Homo sapiens: one gene and its partners. Each later gene encodes a partner of the first gene's protein in a complex. Each region holds a gene or a part of one and is shown in the gene's direction. Other genes may lie near its edges.

Region 1 (7,020 bases):
TCCTAGTGCTAAGAGGTTGTTGAATAGGAGCCTGCTTCTTGTTGGTCTGCTTTGCCAGCGGGTTGAATTTTGACATATTTCAGTCATCTACATGGTTGAGATGCTTTGTTGCACGAGTGGAAATACAAAATAATGTCTGACATTAGGATTCCAGTGCTCTAGAGGTCTCTGGTCAAGTCAATGGTATGGGTAGTAGCTTTTCTGATTCATGTGGTCCAAGGAAGTCATTATAACCACATAGCTTTATATATGAATCATTTGCCTATGTCAGTGAACTGTGATGCTGATTGTCTTAATCATGAGCTCTTTACCTGAACATTTAGAAGCCTTGCATTCTTACTCTTAATGCAGGTTAAGTTGAACTTTGATTTCAGAAGTGAGTTGACTGAAAGGTAACAGGAGTATTGAAATGAGTTATCCTGTCATTCAGGTCAATAGGTGGAGCTAGAGCAATCCAGGAATCAGACCTAGGTTCATTTCTCAGTTCTGCCATCTGGACTTTGTCATCAAATTCTGGAGCTTTAGGCAAGTGCCTTAATGTTTTTGGCTTTAAAAGTATAAACTGAGGCTGTCAGAACTTTTTTTTATAGAAGGCTTGTTCCTCAGATAGGTGGTTCTTGAGAAAACATACTAGGACAAAAAGAGCCCTTCTTGGGTGATAATCAGAAGCCTAAGTTAAGAACAGTAGTCAAAGTTAGGATTTTGTAATTTTGTAATTTTCAGAAGCCAAAAAAATTGTTGAGTTGAATTTTTTCTTTAATATCCAGACTTAGAAAACAAATGGAAGGCTTCACCATAAGCTAGAGATTCTTGGAAAGGTAGGCTTTTATTTATTCCACAGCATCATGCCTTCTAATGAGACCGTATGCTCCCAGAGACTTTGTGGAAGACATAAAATGAGTTCATTATCCTCAGGAAGCTTATAATCAAGGATTAGACTGAAGGCATCGCTAAACAGTTAATTTATGCTCTTTTAAAAGGTATATGAAAGGGTTCCCGCCAAACAAAAGCCCACTTCACATCTCTGTGCAGGCCAAATTTCACTGAAATCCAGTTTTTAAAATTGTGTGTGTGTGTGTGTGTGTGTGTATGTGTGTATACGTATGTGCATGGAGAGAGACAGAGAGGAGACCCCTTTTTGGAAAACTTAGTAGCTTCCATTCTTTTTCTTGGAGGTGGGTTATATCACAAATACAAGAGATACCTGTGTTTCCTGTTACCCTTTATTATATTTCAGATTTAGTTAAAATCTGCCATTCTTTAGAAAGTCAAGGAACTCAAACCTTACAATGATTGCTAGCGTGGGTTTTAAGGTCAGCCCTGAGTTCTAATCGTGCTCCAATCTAACTGTGGTATAGGCTAGTTCAGGTTATATAACATATTTGGGCCTGTTTTATTATCTGTCAAATGAGAATAATAATAGCACGTAACCTCATAGGGCTGTGAGGTTTAAATTAGGTACTGCATGTAAAGTGCCTGGCACTGTTGTGGTGGCTGGAATGCTAGATACAAGTATTCAGGTAGTTTTTGCTATTGTTATCACTTATATTTAACTTTGAACAAACATAAAATGCCAAGTAAACGTCAAACCAGTTTAATGCACAGTGTCCATTCTAATTCTCCAGAATATGCCATTTGTTTCACTCTGCATCTCTGGGGGGTTTATTTAAAATTCGATCATCTCATGTAATCTGAATTGACTGAGATGATTTATATTAACATTTGGACCAGTAATCCTCTCTATCTTAAAATTTGGAAATGTTCCAGAAGCAAATATTGAAGGGAACATATTTGCCACTTTCACGATTTTTTGCCTTTTCCCACAGGAGAAAATTGCCTAAGCTTTCCTAGGTTTGTTATAGACATCTAAAGGAATGAGAATTTAGGAGCTACGAATAGCTTTATCATGTGACACATTTGAAGAAAATGGAATGCTGTCACATCTTTTAAATTTAGTGTTATTGGGATCTTCGATTCTGTGAAGATTGCAGATTTGTCAGAGACCTGGTAACCACAACAATTCATTGAGGCCTGGAGGCCTCTTAAAAAATGAGGGAGATTATTTATTAGTACCACTTAGAAATATTATCTTTTCTGTATTTTCTGTGGTTTTCTAAGTCTTCTGTTTAGCGTTTCTATGATTATAATGGTGGATTAAATTTCTTGTTCCTTCTCAAGAGCATCTACTATGAGATGACACTGGTTTTTACTTCGGCAGTATTTACTGAGCATTGCACTATACTAATCCAGGTATTCGGTGATGTAGGAACCAAAGGAAATAGAAGTCAGTTTCTACCCTCAGTGAGCTGAGTATAATTTGATAGAAGATAAGGATTAACGTAAGCACATTTATGTCCTAACACAAGGAAGCAAATATTGTTAGTCATTTCATTAGGAATTTCTTTTGTCATTGGGGCATTTGGGGCCTTCCAAACCTTACATCTCTTGCCATGCCTTTGTACTCACTCGATAAACCTGAGAAAGCAAGATATCTTCTTTTCTGATTCCTGGTTTAAGTTGAGAGTGTGGTGCACATTAGTCAAAATCCAAATCATAAGAAAAGGCAAACCTTATGAATTCATTTTGGAATACAACAGGGTATCAAAATAAGTATATGAGAAATATGAAAAGCTGACAGTAGAAAAGATGCTACTCAGGTACTAACCAGAGTTCTCAATCTCCTCTGTATTGAAGCTCTTATGATGTAAGGCTGGATCTGTACTAGAAACACTTTTTAAAGTCTCTCTCCAGTATTGAGAAGTATAGTCCTCCAGTACTGCCTCTTGGTGCTGAGAGACTCAAGCCTGCCACCCACCATATTTCTGGGGAAACTAGAAACGAAAAATAGCCACACACAAGCACTTGCTTTGCTTGGCAGGAAACATCAAAACCATAAGATGTTATTTCCTAAAAGTCATTAATTGGGTAGAAAAATCACCATTTTCTGACTTGTTCCAGGAAGGATGGCTTTCTGATTTTCAGATGCCATTGGGTCAACCAAAGGTAAGATAAAGAAAAGCTACTGCTGTGTGGATTTTTCTGTGACTTGAGAAAGCGTCACTTTTCAGTTAAACAAAAACCAAAGCATCTAGCTTTGGCTGTTACTATTGAGAATTTAAAAGTCTTAATGTTTTAATTTGTTTACATTTTATATTTTGACTAAGTAGTAATGAATTCACTTTGACTCAAAATTCCAAAGATTTAAAAAGATAAAGAATCTCCTTTTCTACTCTGTGTAGCCACCTAGTTCTTCTGCCTGGAAACTGTTAAAATTCCTGTGAATACTTCCAAAGATAGTTTATATATGTTTAAGTATATAATCCTTTGTTCAAAATCCTTGGTCCAGATGTATTTTAGAATGAAGGCTTTTTTTGCAGTTGTGGAAAGATAATGTAGCACATCTACCGTGTTATCCAAAATCCCTAGTAAGAGGTTGTAGCCTCATGATTAAACACATTAACATTTCTGTAAAAAATACAGACATAGGCCAGGCGCGGTGGCTCACGCCTGTAATCTGAGCACTTTGGGAGGCCGAGGCGGGCGGATCACCTGAGGTCAGGAGTTTGAGACCAGCTTGGCCAACATAGTGATACCCCGTCTATACTAAAAATACAAAAATTAGCTGGGCGTGGTAGCGTACGCCTGTAATCCCAGCTACTTGGGAGGTTGAGGCAGGAGAATCTCTTGAATCTAGGAGGCGGAGGTTGCAGTGAGCTGAGATCGTGCCACTACACTCCAGCCTGGGCGGCAGAGGTGTAGACTCTGTCTCAAAAAACAACAACAACAACAACACCCAGAAATAATCAAAGACATTAATATTTTTATAAAAGCATAACAAATACAAGTAGGGTGAATAAAGATTATAAAATCTTATGCTACGTCTCGTCAGGTTTTACCACCAAATACGTTTGTACTAAACTTATTTTAAAAACGTATTTTTCACAGCTTTATGGATTTTGGCTTTGCCAATGAAGGATAGGTGTCATACATATATACAGTACTGTATAGCCTCTGCTCTGCTCCCTCCCTTTTTATTTAATGTAAGTTGTTGCATGCAATATGTATCACCTTTTGCTTTTTTGTTTTTTGCTTGTTGGTTTGTTTTTTGAGACGGAGTCTCACTCTTGTTGCCCAGGCTGGAGTGCAGTGGCACAATCTCAGCTCACTGCCACCTCTGCCTCCGAGGTTCAGGTGATTCTCCTGCCTCAGCCTCCTGAGTAGCTGGGATTACAGGTGATCCACCTGCCTTGGCCTCCAAAGTGCTGGGATTACGGGTGTGAGCCACCGCACGTGGCCTGCTTTTTGTTTTAATATAGCTGAGAGATTATTTTATATCAGTCATATCAGTATGTAAATGGCATGCTTTTTTAACATCTTTGTGGTATTCCATTTGTCTTACTCTGTTTGGGCTGCTATATCAAAATACCATAACTTGAGTGGTTTAAACAACAGAAATTTATTTCTCACAGTTCTGGAGGTCGGGAAGTTCAAGATTAGGCTACTTAGTCAATTTGGTTCCCTGGTGAGGGTCCTTTTCCTGGCTTTATAGGTGGCCGGCTTCTGGATGTATCCTCACATGGCCCCTAAGAGCTCTAGTCTGTTCCTCATCCTATCATGGGGGCTCCACCCTCATGACCTAATATAGTCATGAGAGGCTTAGTTAACTCCTAAAGGTCTCTCCTCCAGATACTATCAAGTTAGAGGGTAGGCCTTCAACATATGAATTTGGAGGGACACAGACAGTCCATAACATCATTATACTGGTATACCATTTAACTCCTTTCTGATGCATATTTAGGTAGTTTTCAGACTTTTGCTATCAAAAGCCATGGTGCAGTGGATTACCTTGTGCATACGTCGTGTTGCACTTAAATGCATAGGATAAATTTCCAGAGGTAGAGTTCCTAGGCCAGCGTATGTGCATTTGTAATTTTATGTATTGCTGAAGTGTAGCCTGTAGAGGTTGTCCAACTTCCATTCCACCAGCACTGTGTAAGGATGCCTGCTTCTTATTACCCTTAGACGTCTTTCATCTTTTAAGGGCTGTTTGTGTTTTCTTTCTTTTGAACTGTCCTTGTCTTTGCATGTTTTTCTATTGCTTTGTTGCTCATTTTCCTAGATTTGTAGGATTAATTTTACAAATTGGCTCCATGCTATTTTTTGGAAATGTTTTTCCCCAATTTGCTGTTTTCCATTCTATGGTAGGCTATTATGTATGGTTCCAACTTTATTTTCTTCACCAGATATCCATCCATTTGTCCCTACACCATTTATTAAATAATCCATCTTTGTCTTAACTGATTTAAAATGCCACCTTTACCATTTACAAAATTTCCACGTGTATTTGGTACCATTGTTTCCATTGACCCATCTGCCTGTTTGGGACCTGAGCCATCCTGTTTTTATTATTGTAGTTTATGCTGTGTTTTCTGCTAGGTCTAATTCCCTTTTATTTCTCTTCCTTTTCAGAAGTTTTTTTCTGGCTTCTATCTTGTTTATTTTATATGAACTTCTAAAAACAACCCATCTAGTCTAGTCTGTACCCCTCCTCTGCCAGTCTTTCTGTTGGAATCACTTTTTTTATTTTATTGTGGTAAAATTATGCACAGCTAGATGCACAAGCATTACAGTCCAATAAGTTTGCCTTTGTATACACTTGTGCAATCCCAGATCAAAATACAGAACACTTCCATCACCCAGAACCTTTTCTTACATCCTTTTCAAGTTACCTTGCTCCCCAGTGATTGGCTTCTATTAAATGGATTCAGTGTACTGTTAGGATTTCTTTGTATTTATAGAATAAGTGACAGCTTTATGATGTACCTTTATATCCAAGAATAGGAAAAACAACCTTTTCATTTGTTGAAGTCTCATTTTGAGTTCCTGATAGCATTTTTAAACATTAAAATTTTTTTTTGCTGTTTTATATATTTAAGTTTTTTTTTTTTTGCTGGAAATGGCATCTTTTTTTCCACTTTTATCTTCTATCTGGTTATATATAAGAAAGCTTTTTATTTTGTATATTAGTTAATATTTCATATATTAAATAATAAGCCCCCTGTAGAATATTTATTATTTCTAATAGTTTTGTAGTTGAATTTTTTATTTTTCTTATGTCATGCCAGCTTTTTTGTTTCCTTTGATTTTTACCTCCTCCCTCCCCCAACTTTTTATACTCTTATATTTTTTCTTATTGCATTTATAGTGGTGATTTTAGAAGATTATAGTTTTCCTCCATTATATGTAAAATGAGCCAAAATATCTGTTTATCTGTTGAGTATTTAAATGTTATGAATAATAATGAAATTAGGGAGGGATTATGGGAATACTTAAAGTAGTGTGAAGTTTTCTCTCTAAAGTTAATGTAACTTGAAATGAATTGTGGTTTTCAAAATGTTAAATGGACAAGTTGGGGATCACTTGATAGTGAATGTAGGATTAGCAGTTAACTGCCTTGTGTCTTATTTGATGATACAGTCATGCACCACATGGTGAGGTTTCGGTCCATTACAGACCACATATGTGACAGTGGTCCCATAAAATTATACCATATTTTTACTCTATTTTTTCTATGTTTAGATACACAAATACTTCCCATTGTGTTACAGTTGCCTGCAGTATTCAGTACAGTAACCTGCTGTACAGGTTCGTAGCCTAGGGTCAGTAGGCTACACCATATTATAGCTTAGGTATGTTGTACTATCTAGGTTGGTGTAAGTAGATTCCATGATGTTTGCACAGTGACGAAATTGCCTAATGATGCATTTCTCAGAAGGTATCCCCGTCCTTAAGCAAGGTGTGACTATGTGTATAGGCTGCTTTCTATGTGCTTAGCACCCAGAGGCAGCTCCCGGAAATATAATTTAGTCTGGTGTCAGAGAGCATGCAGTCAAAGTAGAGGTCAAGATATGAGAAGTATGAAGTGAATGAATGTAGACAGGAGGGTCTTAAGCTTGGAAAAATGCAAAAATCAAGTCAGGAAAGCACAGGAGTGAGAGGGTGCAAAGAGTGAGTTTGATT
Region 2 (7,612 bases), on another chromosome or scaffold:
AGAGGAGGGAGTGGTGTGCCTGTTTGTGTGTGCATGCATCTGTTGACACTCATGATTCTGAATGTTGCCTGGGCTGGGGGAGTACCTGTAGCACGCCAGTGCTGTTTCCCGGCCTCCAGACACAAGGCTCGAGGTTATGGCAGTGACTTTCAGCTGAGACCTGTTCCTGCAAGCCAGCTGCCTTGTCTGAACAGAACGTAGTGGTAGGACCCTAGCTGGGATTCTGGCATCTGCCTCCCTAGACCTCCTTCCCTCCCTCCTCACGTCAGGCTGTGGAGCAGGAGCACAGCAGTTCTGGCTGTTGTCCAAAGCATGGGATTCTGGAGGCAGCCAGAGCCCTGCTGAGTTCCTGCTTTCTGACCTGGAGGCTGAGCAGGCCGGAGTGGATGGATGCTGTCCAGACGTAGCCACCTGGCCTCTGTTTCTTATTTTAAAATTCTCTGCTACTGGGCTCAGTCCCAGGCCCTTCCTTGGGCTTCTGGGACTGAGCATGAGGCCATAGACAGATCTAAAAAGTTTCCACCACCCTACAGAAGTACACACAGATACCTGACTGGTGTGGGGTATGCCTGGTACTGTAATAGGAGCCTAAGACAGCACACCTACCTTTTCAGGATTTAGAACCTAAAATTAGAAAGAGAATCCCAGCTGTCATTGTTCCTTCCCCAGAAGCTAAGAGCCAGCCTCAGAGCCTACCCAGGAGCTGTGAAGGGGCAAGGGTCAAACTGACTCACTCTACCAGGAGGAGACCAGGTTGCAGTGGCGTAAGGCCCCCTGGTTTCTCTGGCCACACTCCAAGGCACCACAGTGCTGCCAGTGAGGACAGCTGACACCCAGCCAGGGAAACCATTCTAGTCTTTATTCTGTTGGCTTCCAGGGCCTGTCCTGGACTTGTCAGCATCCAGACTGCCATGTCAGCTATCCCAGTAGCTGAGCTCCAAGGACTCAGGCAGAGGGACTCAGGGATGGGGACTGCCAGGGGCAGTTGGCAAAAGTCCAAGTAGAGATTACACCCAGAACACCATTCCTTCCAGGAGCAGTAGGTGGGAGGTTTGACCCAGAGAAGCCAATCCTTGCATTCCAGGAGTGGCCTGTGCCTCCCACCTCTTCCTTCCCACTGCCAAAGGCCTGTGTTGAGAAAGATGTCATGCAAAAGGACGACGGTGGCCAACTAAAGCAAGTCTTCCTTCCACCCTGTGGCCTGCACTTGAGCCACAAAGTGTGTGTGTGTGTGTGCGTGTGTGGTACGTGTGTGTGTGTGTGGCTATGAGGCTGATTCCTGTTTGGATTTTTGTCCTCACGTGTATCATTAAGCTGGCCTTTGGGCCTTTTCCTTTCTACCTCCCCTGTGACCTTTCCTAGCCTCAGATCTGTTAATTCTTTTGGCCCCAGCCCTGTCCCTCACTGTCCTCTGTCCTTGGACCAGAACCCTGGGGTCAGACCCATCTCCTGTAGCTGTCCATCACACTGACAGGCTTCTTCCTGAGATATCCTCAGGTTTTCTCAGCCAGAGAGCTGCCTTTAGAGTCCAACTGTTGTACGTATGTCACCTTCACTAGAAATGTCCCATCATCGTGGGAGGGGAGCAGGGCACAGGGGATGGTGTGCATTCAGAGCATTGGGTTGGGGGCTTCCCTGTTCCCTCAGCCCCAGTCGAGAGGAAAGAGAATCGGGCCACTGCCAGAAAGAGAGTCAAGCAAACCTGGAAGGGCAAATCTGAGAGTGGGAAGGCCAAAGGCCGAGGCCCAGATTTAGTATTCACTAGCAGCGCCTTCGGGTAGCAGGATGATTCCTTTTCCTGCCTGTCTGCTGCTGGCTCTCTTCCCTAAGGTACAGGTTGGCAGGACCACCTCCGCCTACTTCTCCACCATCCCTAGCATGTCAGCCCGTTCCCAGATCAACCTGCCAGTGGAGTCAGGCAGTGCACTCCTGGAGCCAAGAGGGAAGGGCAGGGTAGAGAGGGTATGTCCAGTAGCCTGGAGCTCCATGGTGGCTTCATGCCTCCCTTCTCCCAGCTCAGGTGGCCCTGAGGGCTCCCTCGGAACAGTGCCTCAAATCCTGACCCAAGGGCCAGCATGGGGAAGAGATGGTTGCAGGCAAAATGCACTTTATAGAGATTTTCTATTGCTGGGAAGGTGTGTTTCTCCCACAATTTGTTTGTGAATATTCACTTGTTTTATAAATGTCTGACCTGTCTTGAGTAAGTTTGTGCTGTCGTCAATCTTGTGGGAGGCCTGGGAACCAGGGTTTTGGTAAGCCTGAGCCTGAATGAAGCTGTCGGCCACCCCATCTTGGTTCTGTGGGAGTCAGGAGCCTCCTATTCCTCCTTAGGAAGGGGGAGCAGCCAGAGCAGACTGGAGCAGCTTGGTCAAGAGTTGGTCCAGAGCTTGGTCAAGAGTTGGGGGTCAATTGGCCAAAATAGTACAGAGCACTCTGGCCCAGAGTGAGGGTCCTAAGTGCCATCCTGCAGTGCCACCCAGCCTTGCAGCCCACTTAAACCCCCTCCCAGGCTGGGGGTCAGTCAGTGCAGGGCCTGCTCCACGCCCTCAATCCATCCTTTAATTCAATGCAGCCACTTAAGCTGCAGCCTGTGGTGAGGAGGGGATGCAGGCTCTCTGGCTGTGACTAGGTGGTTGAGATCTGCCCACAGCCAAGCCTAGGGCGCCTGGATGCTGGCTTTGTCTCCTGGCCAGAGAATGGCCCCTCTCTGTGCAGTGTGCCCTGCTTCCATGCTAGGGGATGCTAGCCTTGGACTGAAAGCTTTATTAGCTCACACCCCAACTTTCTGGGAAGGGGCCCAGGCAAGGCCCAAGAATATCACAGTCTGGCCTGCACAGAGTGAAGAAGGAGAAAAGGGGAGGAACCTGCCTTGGGAACTTGTCTCATTCTTGGCTCTGCTCTGAAGCTCCTGCTGGCCTCCCTCATACCAAGACCTGGGCCTGCCTTTCCTTCTTGCCCTTCTGGCTTCTCTCTAATAATGGCTTTGGGTTGGTCTTTGGAGCTAAGATAACTTTGCTCTTGAGCAAAAGGTTCTGGAAGAGGGAGTTGTCCTTTACATCCACCCCTGACCTGCTAAGGATGTTCCCTAGCTGAGGCAGGTCTACATTCTAAGGAACGATTAGTAGCCATGATGGCAAGACTGCTTTCCTGAGAGGAAAAGCCAGGCACCATGGCAGCAGATGATTACCGTGAGGGCCCAGTGAAAGGGGCCTGATCACGAAAGCTGAGAAAGTAGTGGCCACCCCTCTGGGCCCCAGGGACAGGGAAAAGAGAAGCAGCCATGACCTTTGGCTCTAGGTATTGGGATATTCTCAGGGCTGGTGGTCGGAGGTTGCCTTCTGCACGGAAGGTGCCTCCAGCTCCTTGCTAGGTGCCGCACTGAAGGAAAGGGGCCAGCATGACTGGTCGGCAGTCCAGATTTGCAAATAGGACTCCACGAGTTGTGGCACAGTTTGCTCTGCACGTTTTCTGCCCTGTGGACAGGGTCTCTAGGGTTCTCTCGAGAGACCAGAGAAGCCAATGAGGTTTGACCAGAGGCTCTACGACCCAGCAAAGCTAAGGCCCTAGCCTTGGCAGTCCGTACTCTGAAATAACTCAATCGGGAAACTCAGGGACTTGAAGGCCTGGAAGCCCAGGAATAACACCCTCTCGAGGGAGAGACAATGAGGAAGAAGCCATGGCCAAAGCCTAGCAGGGATGGAGGTGCCAGAGGGAACAGAAACAACCAAAATGATCCCAAGAAGTCAACAGTGGGAGGAGAGGGAAAGGCGCCAAGTCTTAGAATGTGTGTCTGTGGGTGCAGAAGAGGGGTGCTCTGCAGGAAATGCAGTTGAGGCGCTAAGAAGGAGAATGCTGGGAAGGTCCTGGCGAGAGACCGAGAAGCCTGGAGGGCTCAATTCACCACGAGTAGCTGTTTGGGGCTGAAGAGAGATTTGGGTCAATCTTTAGAGAAGACAGCCTCTAGGGAGAGTCTTTGGGAGGGTCCCCTCAAGGTAAAGGGACAGGACTGGGGTGAGGGCTGGATCCCAGCGCAGGAGGTGGAGTGTTTCTGGGTCTCAGGCAACACATTTGTGTTACGTTACATTCTCACAACAACCATGAGAGGGACTGCTATTGTCCCATTTCACAGATAAGAAGACCAAACCTTAGTGCTCTGAAGTCACTAATGCAAGGCCCCACTGCCCAGTCACTTGTGGAGCCAGTGAATTCACACCACCTGACTCCAAACCTGTACACTTTAAGAGCCCACTGACATCCTCTCCTTTCTCTGCCTTCCTCCACGACCCTCCTTTTCCGCCTGCCTTCTTGGTCTCTGCTGCGGGGGGCCAACCTGGACCTTGGGGTCCAGTGTCCTGCCATTAGTCATCTGATACCCGGGCACTAAGCCCAACCGGAGGGACAAAGCCCACACCGGCCACGGGGTGGAGGAGAGTCGATGTCGGATTTAGGGCGGGGCTGAACCAAGCCCAGGGCCGCGGGGGCCGTGGCTTCAGCACCGCGGAGAGCGCCATCTCCGGGGGCGGGGCTGGCGGGGTGGGGGCGGGGCCTGGGCGGGGCGCGCGAGACCCCGGCCGGGTCCCGGGGGCGCGCGCGGGGCGCTCTCGCCAGTCCCGCGGGCCGTGCGCGGTGCTGTGCCGCGCCCTGCCAGACACAGGTGCGCCCGCCTAGCCCGAACTCCGCGGCGGCGGCTGCCCTCTCGCCGCGCCTCCGCCTCCTTCGCAGCCGCCGCCTCCTCCGCGCCGCGCTCCGCCCGGATGGCCAGGGCTGTGCCCGAGAATGGCGGAGCGAGAAAGCGGCGGCCTGGGAGGGGGGGCCGCGTCCCCGCCCGCCGCCTCCCCGTTCCTGGGGCTGCACATCGCTTCGCCTCCCAATTTCAGGTGAGAGTCCCCGGCCGCCGCGCGCCTCGCCCTTCAGCGGGGACTGATCCGCATTGGCTGCCCTGCCCGCCCCCCACCCCAGAACCTCGGGAACCCGGGAACGAAAGGGCTGCGTGGGAGTGGGGTCTCTTCCCGGGACAGAGCCCCCCTCAGAAGCCCCGCCAGCCTCAAGTCCGGACTGGTAGCCGTTGCATGTTCACGAGGCTGTTCCCTCCGCCATTCCTGGTCCTAGGCTGGGAGGTCTGCGCTGGAATTGGAGGAGGGGGCTCGGAGGCCTCCTTCTCCCCAACCTCCGGGCTGCGGCAGGGTCTGGGGTCGGGGTTGCGATCCCGGAGCGGGCAGGCAGGCTGCATCTTAGCCTGTGAATAGAGCTGGGAACAGCCTGGAGGGGCGCGGGTCGCAGTTTCCTGGGGCAACGACATTGTTGGTGCTGGGAGGAGGATGTTTGAGCCCCTCCCCGAGCCCTGCCTGGCCAGATGGGCCTACCTGCCAGGCCTGGCGTGGCCGGGCCCCTCTCTGGATTGGGCAGCACCGACCTAGGCAGGTGTGTCTCTCAGGGCAGGCGCTGAAGGCTCAGCCTCAACCAGGGGAATCCTAGGCCCGGCTGCGGGAAGGGAAGTCGGCTCGGCTCTGGAGTAGCCAGGGCCAGCGAGGGTGTCGAGGGGATCCCTGCTGGGGTAAATACCCAGAACCCTGACCTGAGCTCCTATTCCACCACCCCCACCCCCCAATCTGGTGTTAGGCCCGATGCATTTCAGAGAAGTGAGGGGTGAGTGTTGTGTGGAGGAGGAATAGATGTACCTCCCCCATAATTCTGAACCCTAGTTGGTGGGGAGGAAGAGGCCGAAGTCACTGCTCCCGGCCTAGAGAGGGAGGCTTAGACATACCCCATTGTTTCCCCATCTCGAGAACTGGCGCCTTCCCCTCTCCTGGGGCACCACCCCAGCCAGGCTCCAGCTGGGCTGTGGTGCCAGCCCCTCCTGGGAGCAAGGGGTCACTGGCTCCCAGGTCCTCAGGTGGGCAGAGACCCCTGGGGATCTCTAATAGCATCATCAAACTCAGAAACCTTCCCTGAGGCCCTGAGCTGAGCTGGAAGGACCAGAGGGGGCCAGATGGAGGAGGCCAGGCCTGAAGGCTCCAGGGCTGCAGCTCTCTGATAATGCCTTAGACTGAGGTCTGAGACTCCACCTGGCATGGTGCATGAGGCCTCCATGCAAATACTGCCTCCCCACCTGGAGGCCTCTGCAGTGGAAGCACATGGGGCTTAGAGGGACCTGGGTTCAAATCCTAGCTCCACTACTTTCTAACTGCATGACCCAGGCAGGTTTTTGTCCTCTCTGGGTGCCATCTGTTAAGTGGGCTAATTAATATTGATTCTTGCCTGGAAAGGAGAAAAAGCACATCAGGTCAGTGTTCAACAAGTGTCAGCCCCCACACTAGCAGACAACACTACGGCTCGCTGCTGTCCAGAGTGTCTTCCCAAGGCCCCTCCTTTAACCCTCATAACTGCCCCAAGAGAGGGTAGTGACCTGCCCATTTTATAGATGAGGTGATTGAGATTAACAAAGGCAGGGTGGCTCATCTGGAGACTACAAAAGAGTCAGAGACTAAGGCTACACTGGGACCCAGGTCTGTGCGTGTTTAGTCCACTCTACGTCCCAGCCCTGCCTCTGGCCCAGTGGGCAGCTTTTCTTCCTCGACCTGCTTCCCCAGGTGTCATAGATGCTTTAATGAGAGGAGCTGAGGAAGCAGACACCAGCCAGTGAATGTGTGGCCAGCTCTGCGGCATGTGGGACAAGGGTGGCAGTAGGCCACGAGGCTGAGGTGTGGGCCAGCACTCCAGAACATGGTGGCCTGGCTGCGGAGACAAGGCCAGTGCGTGGGAATAATAAGCGTCAGTGTCTCAGGCCCTGCCGGCCTGCCCCGCTGCTCCCAAAGCCCCCGCTGCCCTTTCTCCTGGCCCGCCTCTCACTGTGCTTGGCCAGGCTCCACTTAACCCTGGGTGGGTAGATAGTGCTTTCTTGTGGCTCTTTGGTGGAGTCATAGATCCAACTGGCCTGGGTTTGAATCCTGGCTGGCCCTTCTTACCTGTGTGCCCTGACACTGGGCACTTAAGCCCTCTGAGCCTCTGAGATGCCAGCACTGGCCCCTGCTCAGGATGGTCCTAAGAATCAGATGAGATAACACGTGTTGAGTGTTTCAAGGGCTGAGGAGAGCCGCCTGTAGGCAGGGCTGTGTGTGTGCACACACACACAGGCGCCTTGACCCCCAGTGCCACTGTCAGCTCCCAGAAAATAAAGGGGGTCTGTACCCAAACTTTGGTATCCCCATTGCTCAGCACGGGATAGTTACTCAATAACAGTGGTAAGCGCTGACATTTGGAAGGCACTCAGTTCGCCCAGGCACCATTCTAAGAGTTTCCTATGTGCAAGAGTATTTACTCCTCCCAATAACTGTATCAACAGAGCGTTGTTATTATCCACACTTGCATGAAGAAACTGAGGCAGAGGGAGGTTAGGTAAGTGGCAGAGCTTGTAAGTGGCAGGCAGTCTGATGTCAGAGCCACCCCAAAAAGAAAGAGCCCTAGAGTATTGGAAGAGCATGTGCGGAGGGGGCGAGCATGTGGACCTGACCTGAAGGGGTGGGAGCATTCGTTTGTTTGTGGTAGGTTAAATACGTGTTAATTTTTGTTCTGATTATAGCTCCAGCTGTTTATAGTGGTTGGTTACCTTTGG
Region 3 (7,161 bases), on another chromosome or scaffold:
AGATTTATATGTAAATATTTCACGTTCTTTGGAGCAATTGTAAAATGGTTCTGTTTTTAATTTCTGTTTCCACATTTTTTATTATTATTTTTTATTTTTTATTATTTTTTTTTTATTGATCATTCTTGGGTGTTTCTCGCAGAGGGGGATTTGGCAGGGTCACAGGACAATAGTGGAGGGAAGGTCAGCAGATAAACAAGTGAACAAAGGTCTCTGGTTTTCCTAGGCAGAGGACCCCGCGGCCTTCCGCAGTGTCTGTGTCACTGGGTACTTGAGATTAAGGAGTGGTGATGACTCTTAACGAGCATGCTGCCTTCAAGCATCTGTTTAACAAAGCACATCTTGCACCGCCCTTAATCCATTTAACCCTGAGTGGACACAGCACATGTTTCAGAGAGCACAGGGTTGGGGGTAAGGTCACAGATCAACAGGATCCCAAGGCAGAAGAATTTTTCTTAGTACAGAACAAAATGAAAAGTCTCCCATGTCTACTTCTTTCTACACAGACACGGCAACCATCTGATTTCTCAATCTTTTCCCCACCTTCCCCCCCTTTCCATTCCACAAAACCGCCATTGTCATCATGGCCCGTTCTCAATGAGCTGTTGGGTACACCTCCCAGACGGGGTGGTGGCCAGGCAGAGGGGCTCCTCACTTCCCAGTAGGGGCGGCCGGGCAGAGGCGCCCCTCACCTCCCGGACGGGGCGGCTGGCCAGGCGTGGGGCTGACCCCCCCACCTCCCTCCCAGACAGGGCGGCTGGCCTGGCGGGGGCTGAGCCCCACCTCCTTCCCGGACTGGGTGGCTGCCGGGCGGAGACGCTCCTCACTTCCCAGACGGGGTGGCTGCCGGGCGGAGGGGCTCCTCACTTCGCAGACGGGGCGGCTGCCGGGCGGAGGGTCTCCTCCCTTCTCAGACGGGGTGGCTGGGCAGAGACGCTCCTCACCTCCCAGACGGGGCGGCGGGGCAGAGGCGCTCCCCACATCTCAGACGATGGGCGGCCGGGCAGAGACGCTCCTCACTTCCTAGATGGGATGGCAGCCGGGAAGAGGCGCTCCTCACTTCCTAGATGGGATGGCGGCCGGGCAGAGACGCTCCTCACTTCCAGATGGGGCAGCCAGGCAGAGGGGCTCCTCACGTCCCAGACGATGGGCAGCCAGGCAGAGACGCTCCTCACTTCCCAGATGGGGTGGCGGCCGGGCAGAGGCTGCACTCTCAGCACTTTGGGAGGCCAAGGCAGGCGGCTGGGAGGTGGAGGTTGTAGCGAGCCGAGATCACGCCACTGCACTCCAGCCTGGGCACCATTGAGCACTGAGTGAACCAGACTCAGTCTGCAATCCCGGCACCTCAGGAGGCCGAGGCTGGCGGATCACTCACGGTTAGGAGCTGGAGACCAGCCCGGCCAACACAGCGAAACCCCGTCTCCACCAAAAAAATACGAAAACCAGTCAGGCGTGGCGGTGCGTGCCTGCAATCGCAGGCACTCAGCAGGCTAAGGCAGGAGAATCAGGCAGGGAGGTTGCAGTGAGCCGAGATGGCAGCAGTATAGTCCAGCTTCGGCTCGGCATCAGAGGGAGATCGTGGAAAGAGAGGGAGCGGGAGCGGGAGCGGGAGAGGGAGAGGGCTGTTTCCACATATTTATTGTTAGTATGTAGAAAACCTTTCTTAGTAAAAGAAAGAAATGTACTCTTCGGTGAAGTAAACTTGTTTAGTGGTTTCCCCTTCACCTGCTGGGCAGGTAACAATCTATTTATTCTAACATTCAAGTACCTCCACAATGTGCCTCTGTATCTCTTAAATTTAACCTCATACCTAATTGCTAAATACCGATTTCTACTGCTACTGGGTTTACTCTTCTGTCACTTGAATACACCTTACTCATTATTCATTCCACCTCCATGTCTTGGCTCATTGCCATTTGCCCTCTGGAATCTTCCCTCCACTGGCTTCTTCACTGCAAACTAAATCTGAACTGTCCTTCAAGGATAAGGTCAAAACTCTTTATAAGGTGCCTTCCCTGATAATCCCAGCCTACATTGCTCCTTTTCTCCCCTGATGTTTTTTTTTGTTTGTTTGTTTTTTTTTTTTTTTTTGAGATGGAGTCTCACTCTGTTGCCAGGCTGGAGTCTGGAGTGCAGTGGTGCGATCTCGGCTCATTGCAACCTCCACCTCCCGGGTTCAAGTGATTCTTCTGCCTCAGCCTCCTGAGTAGCTGGGACTACAGGCGCCCACCACCACGCCTGGCTAATTTTTGTATTTTTAGTAGAGACGGGGTTTCACCATGTTGGCCAGGATGGTCTCGATCTCTTGACCTCATGATCCACCCGCCTCGGGCCTCCCAAAGTGCTGGGATTATAGGCTTAAGCCACCACGCCCGGCCCCCTGACTCTTTTAACCAATATTGTACATCACTCAATCATTGATTTCGTTTTTAATGAGCTTTAATATACGTCTTGTTTCCAGAAATAGATGAAATACCCTGAGAGACTTCTATGATAGCTATGATGGCACCACATCATACATTACACAAACTTAATTGTGTAACTGAGGAAAGGGGAGAAACGTTTCAAGCCATGTCAGTTAAAGCAAGGTTACTGGAACTTTGGCATGCAAAGGGGATACCATTAATTCTCATGAATCTTTCCTCCAGGCAAGATCCATGCTCTGTACCACTAGTAAAAGGACTATCTTCTTCTTCCTTCCTAAAAATCCCAACACCTCCAACAAAGGTCTACAGTTAGATTTTTAGGGGTTTCCTGGTAGAGCACAAATAATCCCAAGGAAGCTGCAGTAACACCTCCTGGCCACCAGAGGACAGGGAGCAGTGGGAGAGATTTGCTTCCCCTAGCAAAGTCTTCAAGAGGCCAGAGGCACAGGCTCAAAGTTGCTTCTCCATCTGTGGCCTTCAGGCTTTACCTACTACTGCCAGAGGTGCTAGGGTGCCTCCCATCTTCAAATGGGCTTTTTTTTTCCCTCCTATAAAAGATGGGCCAGAAGTTCCCAGGGCCATACCCCGCAACACTAACCTTCAATGATTACCAATCATAAGGAATGCCTTTAGTTGCAGGACTTAAAGGCAGAAAAGTAGTAACAGGGGTGTATTATCTTTCGAACCCACCCAAACCTGCTTATCAGTTCTTTTGCTAGTGGAAAAACGTGCTTTAGGCAGGGTGCACATGGATATCCCACAGCAAACAGTGCCTTTAGGGTCTAGTGTCCCAATCCGGCACATTGTAAATGGAATATTTGAAGAGTTAGATTATTCCTACACATAAATTCTGGCTCATGGAGCAGTCCACTCGCAGGGTGCTTTTCCGTCATTAATCACATCTTTGTTATGTGATATCCACGTGAGTACTTCTCAGTAGAAGCAGCTTCATGCTCAAATGCTCAAAGAACATTGGAATAAAGCTCCGATTGTCCTATTCAGTGATTCCAAGTCCTGGTTTGTCACCACCTCAGGTCTCTCGTTTTCCAAAGTGCATAATGTCATCTCAAAACAGACATTTTAATGAATTCAAATAATAAAATGCACGAGGTATGTGGAGTTAAATCAACAAGGGTTTTGTACCTCTCAAGAGGCGGTTAACCCCTGGTCTTATTTAAAGATGTTTCTGCGCTGCCTCCTGTAGAAAACATTTTTAAAGAAAATGTAGGCTGCTTATCCTTGTATTTGTAAATATAAGCAAAGTAAAGTAATGTAGGAACATTTATGTGGGGGCTTTCAACCATAAACATATAGATAGCTGAATGCCTGACAACAGTAGTGTGATTTTTCTTGAAGTACCTGTAACTTCTCTCCTGAGAGATGGCAGAGCCTTGCCTTTTGCATTCGCCAGACTTTTTACAGAGCGAGTGTAATTCTCTCAAATCAGTGTTTGCGTTTTTTGACGTTGGTGAGGCAGCTGGAAACAGCTCAAGGAGGAGGGAAAGGTTCTGCGTCTGGGTGAGGGAGAAAACCCTCCGATACCTGTTGGGGCGCAGCACTGGAGGCGGACACCCCGGCCCGGGGGTCGGGGCCGCGAGCCCGGGGGTAGGGGGCGGGCGCGCGGGCGCGGGAGGAGGAGGAGGAGGAGGGAGAGGTGGGGGAGGAGGCCGCGGGGCCGCCTCCTCCGGCAGCTCCGGCTCCTCCCAGCGGCGCCCGCGGAACCTGCCTCAGAGTCGCCGGACTCTGGAAGGGAACATGACCTGACCCCTCCCCGAGCGGCCGGAACGAGGCGCGGAGCCGCGCTCCGGGCTCGGGCGGCCGCGGGATGGGCGAGCGCGCGGCCCCGCCCGGCGCCCACCGCCCTGCCCTCGCCTGTCTCCTCCTTTCCCCGGGGCTCCGCTGAGTTCATTCACTGGGATTGGTTTCAAGTGACGCCATCTCTTTATTTTTAAACCAATGACCTCATCCGCGCTTGAAGTTTCCTGACCAGCGACTCTTTCTCTTTCCCCCAACCCCCCACCCCACCCCCCCGCCTTTCCCCCTCTTTCTATGTATCAGTGTTTGGGGGGCTTTAATCAGTTTTTAAACGATTATTACCACCTCTCTCTCCCCCCCAACCCCCACTTTCACAACGCGGCCCCCCACCTTTACCTCCCTAAGTTCTTCATCTCTTTCGACATTTTTTTTGAAGGCTGATGGGGGGGAGGGTGGAAGAGAAAGAGTGAAGAAAAGTTGCGAGCGTCTCCTCTCTTCCTAAGCCTCCCGCCCCAACCCACCCCTCAGAGAAGGAGAAGATAATATACTGAAAAGAAGAGGAGGAGGAGAGCGACGGGACGGGACGCGAGCGGGAGCGCAGCCGCCCTCTCGGCTCCGCGGCGGCGCCTCGCAAGTCCGGGAGGCGAGGGGGGCCCGAGGGGAGACGCCGTGACAACTTTCGTTTCCCTCTGAGGGAATTGGGAGGTCGGCGGCCCCAAAAGTAAGTGGCCTTGGCGGGCCGCGCGGGGTGTGCGGGCGGGAGGGTGCGGGGCCCGGGGCGCCCTCCCGCCCGGCCGCATGGACGCTCCGCAGCGCGCCCCGACTCCCGGTGCCGGGCGCCGCGCTCCAGCCCCGCCGTCTCTGCCTTCCCGGGCGTACCGGCCACCCTTTCGGGAGGCGGCGTGGGGGCGACCGCGGCCGGGGGCCGCAGGAGCGTTTGAAGCGGGGGTGTAGGCCTGGCCGGAGGCTGGCCGGAGCGGGAAGGGGGCGTGCGGCCGGGCGCGGGGTCGCAGTGGGTGCGCTCCCGGCCGCTGCGCGGCGCTTGGACCGGGCCCCGCCGAGAGGAGCGGCCGCCGCGGGACGCGGCACCTTTGCGGGCGAAGCTGCTCACTTCCAGGCGCGACTGTTACACAACACGCCTGCCAAGTGGGGCCCTGGCCTGACTGTTCCCATTATCCCCAGTTCGCCTTTGGTGTAAGCAGCGAGGCCACCTGGGTGGTGACGGTGCTGCTTTCTTCAACCAACCAACCGAAAAAGCCCTCAATTTTCGGACAGGGGCTCGGGTCTTGGCGTTGGGGGGCCCGACGCCTAGTGACTTCTTTATTTACACTAGCTGCAAAACGTGAGAAATAAAAAAGCCCAGGGTCTGTGTATCACGTGTAGTTTCATGTAATGAAACACCACAGAGGGAAATATTTTCAGATGCTGGGTTTATTTCCTAAAGAATACCAATAATGAACCAGAGAAAAGGCAAGTAGATCTGAAAATGAATGGATACTGCAAAATCCTAAAGAAGTTTAGGAAACATCAACTGCAAGGATTCTTGGCGTTTTGAAGTCGTGGGTGTCTCAGATTGGAGAAAGCACACCTCTAACCAGCCTGTGATGAATAAGCTGGGGAGGAAAAAAACCTGTTGCATAATCTCATTTGCCGTGGGGTTTGCTGTGCCATCCCCTTGAACCAAAGGGAAGTGAGTTAAGATGCAGGGTTTTAAAACTCTCTGAAGTTTTTATTTACCCAGCGCTCTGGCTCCCACTTCTGTTTTAAAAGATTATAAGTAAATACTCTGCTCTTTCAAGTGAACCAAACCTATCAAACCTGTTTAGAAAATAAACCAGGTATGTTTCTTTCTCTTCTTTCTTTTCCGCCTCTGTGTGTGTGTGTGTGTGTGAAATTTACCATCCATGCAAAAGTTTAGGACTAGTGTTTGGGGAACTGAGACTGTCAGAAAAATGCCTCTTTATGCCACTCACCTTATGGGGCTGATGGAGAGTCCACGTAAAGGATAACCGTTTCCTCAAAGGATTTATGCTGTTTCACCTCCATCAAGAAAAGGGCTTTTTAAAGTTAAGGTAAAATTTTAAAAGAAAAGATTTCGTACCAATTGAATTAATTACTCTTTAATACCTACTTTTCCTTGAGTATCACATATATTGGTGGATACCACTTGGGAGGCTCGTGGAGTCTATTTGGTGAAGGCAGCAGCTTGGAGAAGTAAAATGAAAAGCAGAATGTATGGCTCTGTGTAGGGATTTTAGTAAAAATGTGAGTAGGCACGGTGAAAGGTTTTTGTTTTTTAAAATTGTGGAATTTACTGAGTTTGAAGACAATGTGGAAAGTTGCATTAAAATTTTTTTTAATTTGGCTAACATTTACAGTCTTATGTAAAAATATAGGCTAAATAACACCAGCCCAAGAGTTGGATTTTAGGTAAAATAATTTTTGCACTTATCAAAATTCTACATGGGGGAAAAATTAGAAATGAATTTATTTTGAATTTTGTTAGTGTGAATAGTGTTTTGAAAATAACTCGGTTCAAGTACTATAAATGTACATTCAGATAAAAAATGTAAACTGTGGTAATTAATTTTTTTTTTCTTTTTTAGTATTAACCTCTGCTATATCAGCAACTCAAAGTACAATATCTCATTTGGCTTGATTATAGTGCCAAATGATCATAGTGCATGATTATGGAGGGGGCTAGGAACAGAACTGCAGAATTATCCAGTTTTGCTCCTTTTTCAATTTAGAATGCCCTATCCTTTCGTTCAGTTTGGTGATTGTAAGTGTGTACCTATAAAATAAAAATAGACATGTAAAATTGGGGATTGGAGTCTTTGGGCCAAAAGCTTAATGGCAGTAACTGAGAAGGCAGTAAAAGAGGAGACACTGTTACCCCGGTTCTTTTCCTTTTTCCTACACGTTTAAAAATTATTTGTGGGACAGTTGAGAGTGGAAGTGAGGCTGAGATGGGAGGGGG

Evidence for each region. The genes of interacting proteins can lie anywhere in the genome.
Region 2: the proteins of MAPK8 (region 1) and MAPK8IP1 are in contact, whole or in part, in a crystal structure (PDB 3VUM), measured with the Homo sapiens proteins. Residues at the interface, in NP_001310257.1 of Homo sapiens: Lys83, Asp112, Ala113, Gln117, Val118, Met121, Leu123, Glu126, Arg127, Tyr130, Tyr133, Val159, Lys160, Ser161, Asp162, His286, Val323, Trp324, Asp326, Glu329; in NP_005447.1 of Homo sapiens: Arg157, Pro158, Lys159, Arg160, Pro161, Thr162, Thr163, Leu164, Asn165, Leu166.
Region 3: the proteins of MAPK8 (region 1) and DUSP16 are in contact, whole or in part, in a crystal structure (PDB 4YR8), measured with the Homo sapiens proteins. Residues at the interface, in NP_001310257.1 of Homo sapiens: Arg189, Val196, Ile197, Leu198, Gly199, Asp229, Ile231, Trp234, Gln253, Thr255, Val256, Thr258, Tyr259, Val260, Asn262, Arg263; in NP_085143.1 of Homo sapiens: Phe215, Leu267, Asp268, Tyr271, Lys275, Pro279, Ile281, Ser282, Pro283, Asn284, Phe285, Asn286, Leu288, Gly289, Gln290, Leu292, Asp293.

The regions. Positions count from the first base shown.
Region 1 is NC_000010.11:48,309,666-48,316,685, forward strand, and holds part of MAPK8 (mitogen-activated protein kinase 8), read left to right. Parts: intron 1-7,020. UniProt on the Homo sapiens protein: Serine/threonine-protein kinase involved in various processes such as cell proliferation, differentiation, migration, transformation and programmed cell death.
Region 2 is NC_000011.10:45,881,045-45,888,656, forward strand, and holds the start of MAPK8IP1 (C-Jun-amino-terminal kinase-interacting protein 1), read left to right. Parts: upstream 1-4,606; 5' UTR 4,607-4,776; coding exon 4,777-4,877; intron 4,878-7,612. UniProt on the Homo sapiens protein: The JNK-interacting protein (JIP) group of scaffold proteins selectively mediates JNK signaling by aggregating specific components of the MAPK cascade to form a functional JNK signaling module. Required for JNK activation in response to excitotoxic stress.
Region 3 is NC_000012.12:12,559,858-12,567,018, reverse strand, and holds the start of DUSP16 (dual specificity protein phosphatase 16), read left to right. Parts: upstream 1-4,155; 5' UTR 4,156-4,902; intron 4,903-5,903; exon of another isoform or gene 5,904-6,019; intron 6,020-7,161. UniProt on the Homo sapiens protein: Dual specificity protein phosphatase involved in the inactivation of MAP kinases. Dephosphorylates MAPK10 bound to ARRB2.